2 linked regions of the Homo sapiens genome follow. The protein of the gene in region 1 purifies or fractionates together with the protein of each later gene. This does not show direct contact. Each region holds a gene or a part of one and is shown on either strand. Other genes may lie near its edges.

What was found.
Region 2: the proteins of GPATCH2 (region 1) and LRP6 purify together in Homo sapiens (affinity purification with mass spectrometry; one large-scale study listed by BioGRID and IntAct). This does not show direct contact.

What each region holds. Positions count from the first base shown.
Region 1 is NC_000001.11:217,610,545-217,614,369, forward strand, and holds part of GPATCH2 (G patch domain-containing protein 2), read right to left. Parts: intron 3,659-3,825; coding exon 3,597-3,658; intron 528-3,596; coding exon 345-527; intron 1-344. UniProt on the Homo sapiens protein: Enhances the ATPase activity of DHX15 in vitro.
Region 2 is NC_000012.12:12,183,220-12,187,044, reverse strand, and holds part of LRP6 (low-density lipoprotein receptor-related protein 6 isoform b precursor), read left to right. Parts: coding exon 1-122; intron 123-2,933; coding exon 2,934-3,065; intron 3,066-3,825. UniProt on the Homo sapiens protein: Component of the Wnt-Fzd-LRP5-LRP6 complex that triggers beta-catenin signaling through inducing aggregation of receptor-ligand complexes into ribosome-sized signalosomes.

The sequences.
Region 1 (3,825 bases):
ACACTTAAAAAAACTGAAGCAATGCCTAGCAAAGTACTAAGGCAGTCAGCACTTAACTAACCAGTGTTCAATCACTAGAGTAATAAATACCCATTTTCTTTTTTCCGAATTAACATTCTTATCATTTCAACATTTTCTCAATGAGCCTAGCAAGAAAGCAAGTCAATTTTTCTAATAATTTGAAAGCATGATAAATGTAGTAGCTATATTAGTGGCCAATATGTTTCTTTACAGCATCTTGTGTTTACATTCTCTAATTTCCACTTTATCTTATCCTCCTTGAATGAATATTCCTAGACTGACCTTAAACCCATTATATCTACCAGGGAGCCAGTGCTACTGACCTCTTCTGCTTGGGTGTGACATAAGGGGAAAAGAACCAGTTAAGATACTTTCAAAGACAGGATCTGGTACATTTTTGTCTAGCTCAGTAGGATCTTCCTTTTCCCACCAGGGCACAACTCCAGTGATACCACATGCTCCACCTGATTCCTTTTCGTAGAACCAGTCACTCTGTTCATCATCACCTGTGCAAATACAAGAAACCCCCCCCCACCAAAGACTCAGTTTTATCATCCAGTTACACAATTAGTCTTGTCAGGTAATAAAAATACAAGATGGCAGTTAAATTTGAATTTGAGATCAATGACTAACTTTTAATATAAGTATTATATACTTGCACTAAATTTTTGGTGGAAATATGTCTAAGTACTGCATGGGACATACCTGTACTAAAAAATTATGTGTTATTTACCTACAATTTAAATGTAATTGGGGATCCTATGTTTTATTTGACAACTGCATATACAATCTATAAGGAAAACTTTTTATTTTATACCACAGCTTCACTTAAGAAATGTTATCTTAAGACTCTAAGAACTGCCAGCAACAAAAACACAAAATATTATGTTTTAGAACCAATTTTAAAATGTGAAAAACAATAATAAACTGGTTAATCCTTTGGCAAAAACTATTAGAAAATCCATTTAAGTTACTACCCCTTCCACGTTAAGAAAAAACAAACCTTAATCTGCTCCTGGGAATTAAAAAGTATTAAAACTGTGGAACCCTTTCTTTGCAGCAGATATAGGTATATAATTAGCTTAATTTCATGATTTGTATGGAGTGTAAAAGGGGAAACAATCATGAACAGATGTGACTAAATGAAATTAATCCAATTAAGCTCATTAAGAAATAGTTTTGAAAAAGTTGATTTTAAATGAAAAGTGACAATACCTTAGAGTTTATGAAGAAACTATATTAAATAATCGAGATGTTTTTGCCCAACAAAACATTTTTTGTCTGTGAGACAAAAACACAGAAGACAGATGGCTTTTAAAAGAAAGAGACACAGGCCAGTCATGGTGGCTCATGTGTGTAATCCCAGTGCTTTGAGAGGCCAAAGTGGGAGGATCATTTGAGGTTAGGAGTTCCAGACCAACCTGGGCAAGAAAGCGAGACCCTGTCTCTACAAAAAGATTAAAAATTAGCCGGGCATGATGACATGCACCTGTAGTCCTAGCTACTCGGGAGTCTGAGGCAGGAGGATCCCTTGAGCCCAGCAGTTTGGGGTTACAGTGAGCTATGATTGCACCACCAGCCCTCCAGCCTGGACCACAGGGCGAGACCTTGTGTTAAAAAAAAAAGATAGAGAAAAGAAAAGAAAAACAGAAAGAAACAAACAGCATTTTTAAGATGATCTGCGATTCATTAAAGTCTCCTTCCCTTGATTATGAGAAGCCACCACTAATTCTGGTTTCTAAGAGGGTCGTTGTAATTGTCATAAACTTTTCCCTTTACAGAAAGATATTTCTGATTTCTAAAATCTCTTACAACAGACATCTTTAAAGGAAAACTAAAAATACTCTTAAGCTTCAGTTGAAAATTATTTTATGAGAAATAGCTATATTTCAACTAAGTCACAATGGAAAATTAAAGGCATTTCAAAAATTAGAGTCATCAGCTCGTTTCTACTGGGGAATTAATTAAAAAAATTTTTCAAAACACACAATTAACAGCACTTAGATATCAGGACTTTTACTGAGCTTTACATTAAAATTACACAGATCAGGTTTAAGCATAAGAAAAAACAGGGCCTCACTTGAAACTGACTACCATATATCTGAATTCCAACACTATTACAGAAAAATAAAGTTATTTTATTTTTGATGTAATACACAACTTTATTCTTCAATAGGGAAATCAAATAGTCATTGATTAAGAACTTGCTCTGAAATCAGACAGACCAATTAGAATTCTAGTGTCTGTAACATCAGGAAAGTTACTTCAACTCTATTAGAGTCAGTTTCTTCATTTTAAAAACTTGGGAATCTCAAAGGGATTTTAAGAATTAATTAAAAACTTAAATGCAAGGAAAACACTTAGCAACGTGAAACATAGTAAGTTCACAATAAATGCTGGCATATCATTCTAAGCCTTTCCATACTTATCAAAGATTGACAGGCTTGTCAAAGTTTTTTTTTACTTTTTTTCATTTCATTTTATTTCATAACCAATATCAGCATTTATAATACAATCCTGAGAAAAGATCTGTATTTTAATGAGAATTTAAGTATATTATCAGGATGGTTACCCTTGCATTTAGCCCCAGCATTCTAACATATTTCAGCAAAGTATCAACTTTAAAGTCCATGGTCTTTCAAACAGTTATGTACCTATTCATTTAGGACAAATAGTTTACAAGCAGGCAAAAAAGAATGATCACTTATGTTTTTTGTACTGCCAAAAGGATGAACAGACTAAGAAAAAAAGTATAGGAGGCTACTTTGTCCTTTTCTTATAACATCATTAACTAAATTTATAATTTAAAATTTATATTAGTGTTTTTCACTTGGAACTTACTGTCTTCCTCTAATGTATTCTTAAGAAAGGAAGAAAACATTTGTGATAGGTATCTGTATGTATGATTTGTATGGAGCGTAAAAGGGAAACAATCATGAGCAGGTGTGACTAAATGAAATTAATCCTATTAAGGATTAATCCTGCTCCCTTATTAAGGTTTTTTTAAATTTTTCATAGCTTCAAAATACTGCCATGTTACAGACTGAAGCTTCTGGAAGTTTCAAAGATGGAAAACATATAAGTTGCAAGACATTTCTGTTTAATGGTTTACAATATTGAATTCATAAAAATCATCTAATTACTTACAAACTGGATAGAATGAATAAATGTCACAGCTGAATAAAAATGACAAATGACTTGGAAATCCACCTTTATGAATGCTTAAACAGTTTTAAGTACATCTGGAATTAGAGAATGAGAACCAGTTTCTTTCAAACTTGCTAAAAGAGAGAAAATCAAAAAGGTACCTAGAGCTTTCTCAAACAAGATAATCCTTCCTTAATATTATTAGCTCCACATACTAGCTTTTGGAGATAATCAATTACTTAGGTCATGAAGACAGGACACCCTCCATAGCATATAAAAAACCAGCTACGATACTAAATCCTAGTTCACTAAGTAATATGTGTAAGGTAAATGGATTGCAGTCATCAACTTATGAAATAACCAGTAATAAGCTCCACTTTAGAATGAAGAAGTTTTTCCAAAGAGAGAAAAAAATATCATTTCAGTACCTTGTCTTCCCTCATCATTGGTAAACAATCCAGCATCAGTGCTGCTGAGACTGCTGGAATCACTGTAATAAGGAAAAAGAAAGAAACAGATCAAAAGAACAATTGATCTCTCAGTCGTAAAATTTTAAAGAGACATGGCAGCTCAGAGATGGAACTTAAGCCTGACAAAGATCTGAAAGAAAATAAGATGATTTTTTTTTTAATCAAACTGCTAATATCCTGGTTCCAT
Region 2 (3,825 bases), on another chromosome or scaffold:
CTGGAGCACACACTCCATTTTGGCTTGCAACAAGTATACTGGTGAGGGTCTGCGTGAAATCCATTCTGACATCTTCTCTCCCATGGATATACATGCCTTCAGCCAACAGAGGCAGCCAAATGGTAAGTGATCCTTGATTTTTAAATTGCAAGTTGGAACAGCTTTGTAGCACTCTAATGTCTGGCTTTAGTGAGGATCAGGAGGAGGGAGGGCATATCCAAAGATAGTTGGCGGGAATAAAAAAGAGTTAAAATCCTACTTGGGAGGCTGAGGCAAGAGAATCACTTGAACTCGGGAGGCCGAGGTTGCAGTGAGCTGAGATTGCGCCACTGCACTCCAGCCTGGGAGACAGAGAAAGACTGTGTCTCAAAAAAAAAAAAAAAAAAGTTAAAATCCCAGCACTTTGGGAGACTGAAGCAGGCAGATCATATGAGGTCAGGAGTTTGAGACCAGCCTGGCCAACCTGGTGAAACCCTGTCTCTACTAAAAAATACAAAAATTAATGGGGTGTGGTAGTGTGCACCTGTAGTCCCAGCCGCTTGGGAGGCTGAGGCAGGAGTGTCACTTGAACCCGGAAGGTGGAGATTGCAGTGAGCCGAGATTGTGCCACTGCACTCCAGCCTGGGCAACAGAGCGAGACTTTGCTCAAAAAAAAGGGAAAATGTAAAAGTATAATTCAGGTTAGGCAATAGCCTAGACCATTTTGTAGCCTGTCACTACAGACCACCTCAGCCTTTTTGAGTCAGCGCTTTTAGAGGTGGAGAAGAGAGAGATAATTTAAAAATTGAGATAGCTTATATGCTAGGCTTATACACAAATGAGTTTTTTTGTTCATATTATTTCTTTCAGTATGTAGTTGAATGTGTTGATGTGAGTGTGTTTAAAAAACAAACTCTTGGGCCAGGCGCGGTGGCTCATGCCTGTAATCCCACACTTTGGGAGGCCAAGGCAGGTGGATCACTTGAGGTCAGGAGTTTGAGACCAGCCTGGCCAACATGGTGAAACCCCGTCTCTACTAAAATAACAAAAATATTAGCCAGGCGTGGTGGCGTGTGCTTATAATCCCAGCTACTTGGGAGGCTGAGGCTGGAGAATCGCTTGAACCCGGGAGGCAGAGGTTGCAGTGAGCCAAGATCACGCCATTGCACTTTCAGCCTGGGCAACAAGAAAGAAATTATGTCTCAAAAAAAAAAAAAACAAAAAACACACACACACACAAAAACGCCTCTTCTTTTTAAATGAAAACTCTGTTAATCTAGAATATATTTGAATTTAAGTACCTCAGCTTGCTAAATAAAATACCTACTTAAACTTTTCTGTGTACCCCTCCCACCTTGTTTTCCTTAGTTTTGGTTCTGTGTTTGGTCAGCCTTTACAATGACTCGGGCTATGACTGCTGAGAACTTGTAAGAGAGGACTGGAATTAGGTTTAAAAGGAATACGAGAATGTTAAGGGTTTGGCACTTTTGTGTAAATAAATGTCTGGCATCTGTCTGAGTGTATTTCAGATTTTATTACATAGCCAAAAATGAAGAGATTTTGCAACATATGTTGCTTTATATTAGCTCTCCATTTAGGGGGAGATAATCAAATATTGAAAGTGTTATGTTGGAATCTGATGATCATGAGCCCATAAAAATGTTTTTAAGTGTATGTGTTACTCTTCTGTACAAAAGAAAATGTTCAGTCACTTGTATGAATTTTTTTATTCTTCATAGCCCTCAAAAGAGAATTTTCCCTGTTTTTTGTTTGTTTTTTGAGATAGAGTCTTGCTCTGTTGTGCGTTTATGTGATCACGGCTCCCTGCAGCCTCGAACTTCCAGGCTCAAGTGATCTTTCCACCTCAGCCTCCCTAGTAGCTGGGACTACAGGCATATGCCACCACACCTGGCTAATTTTAGTATTTTTTATAGAGGTAGGGTCTCACCATGTTGGTGACCCAGGCTGGTCTCAAACTCCTGGGCTCAAGTGATCCACGCACCTAGGCCTCCCAAAGTGCTGGGATTATAGTCACGAGCCACCGTGCCTGGCCTCTTGTTTTTCTTTTTAAATGGCATTGTTGGTCCTTTATGTTTTACTAATTTGAGAATTTGCAGTTATCTTTCATGTTGGTTACTTTTATCTTTCATGTTCCATTGGTCTCCATCTTATGTTGATTTTTTTCTATGAGTATTGTTTGGACATATCCCTTTCCATAATTTCCAAAGTTTGCTAATTAGTTTTCTCTGATTTTCATTTTCCCCTTTTTTCTGCTTATCCCTTCTATGTTAATCTTCCCAAGGCATGACTTTTCAACATAATTACTTTTCTTGGCTTTCAGTGTCCTTCACTTTAATCTATTCCCATTCTTTGTATTCATTCAGCTTTAGTTCCTATTAGTCAGTAGAAACCTTAACCTCCAGTTATACTGTTCACCTTAATATCTTACCCAGTTTATAGCCCCCAAAGTTTTATTCAGATAGCTTTACCATACTTGAAATGTCCTCTTATCTATCCTTCCTATCCTTGAAGGCTCCCGTGCTGTATACTCCACAAAGCTCTTCTTCAATTCTTTAAACCTCAGCGGTTTTTTTCCCATTTGACTCTGTACTTATTGTCTATAATGTGCAAAATAGCACTTAGTTTTATTGGTTTTGTTTGTTTGTTTGTTTGTTTTTAGTTTTGCTTTTTGTTAATTTTGTTTAACTGACTAAATTGTAACCTCTTTTAGGGCAGGGATCTCCTGCTTTACTTCTTGTGTATTCCTCTTTGGTTACAAAATACTAAGTAAATTCACACTGATTAATTCCTGTCTTTGCAGATGGTTTGATAGTCAAGCACCTGCATGACATTTGGTAATAATTTTGGCTTATCACAGTTGTTCATGTTATGGTTGTTAACCTTTGTGTACTTAGTAATCATTGATATTAATCAATGTGATTTATATTTGACAGCCACAAATCCATGTGGAATTGACAATGGGGGTTGTTCCCATTTGTGTTTGATGTCTCCAGTCAAGCCTTTTTATCAGTGTGCTTGCCCCACTGGGGTCAAACTCCTGGAGAATGGAAAAACCTGCAAAGATGGTAAGAAGATATTATCCAAAATGAAAAATTTTATAACTATTGGAATTCTTCATGATTTGTTTTCTCTATAATCAGCTCTCTAGGTTATACTGCTTTGGGAGACCAGTCACTTAATTTCACAGTCTTCACACATGGTTATAGAATAGGAGTGTTTTGTTCTGTGGCATCACTTGAATGCTATTTTATAAATTATTTTAGTGTTTTAAATAACATATTTTTGAAAAAAGTTACGTGTTGTATCTTTTCTGTCAAATCTCATAGTCATTGATATCACAGTTGATAACTATGGAAATGAGTAGTCGCATAAGGAATATATTTTTAACAGGTAGCATTTGTGAATAAAGAACCTCTGTGAAAGAAAGTATGTTTATTAAACTTTTAGCTACAAAGAATATCATGAGATATATTTTATAACAAATTATTTAAGGATGTTTTAAATTGCTTTTTAACAACAGAGAGATGCTTTCAGAGCTGGGAAAAAAAATCCATATTTAAAACAACTTCTTTTTATACTTAAGAAACACACTTTGCCTGTTCTCCTTACTCTTAATTCCCTATAGAGAGAGGGCACGTTGGAGAAAGTATACTGATTTAGGACATTTTAAGGGACTTCCAGTTTGGAAGAACACCAGTTCTTCTGTTTTTCTTCTTAATGAGAATGTTATTCTTCATTCTCACCCCTATGGATCACCATCTGGTTCTCTAGCAACCAGCAAGACCTGGTAAGAAAATTGTTGTATTTAGCTGTGGCTTCTTTATC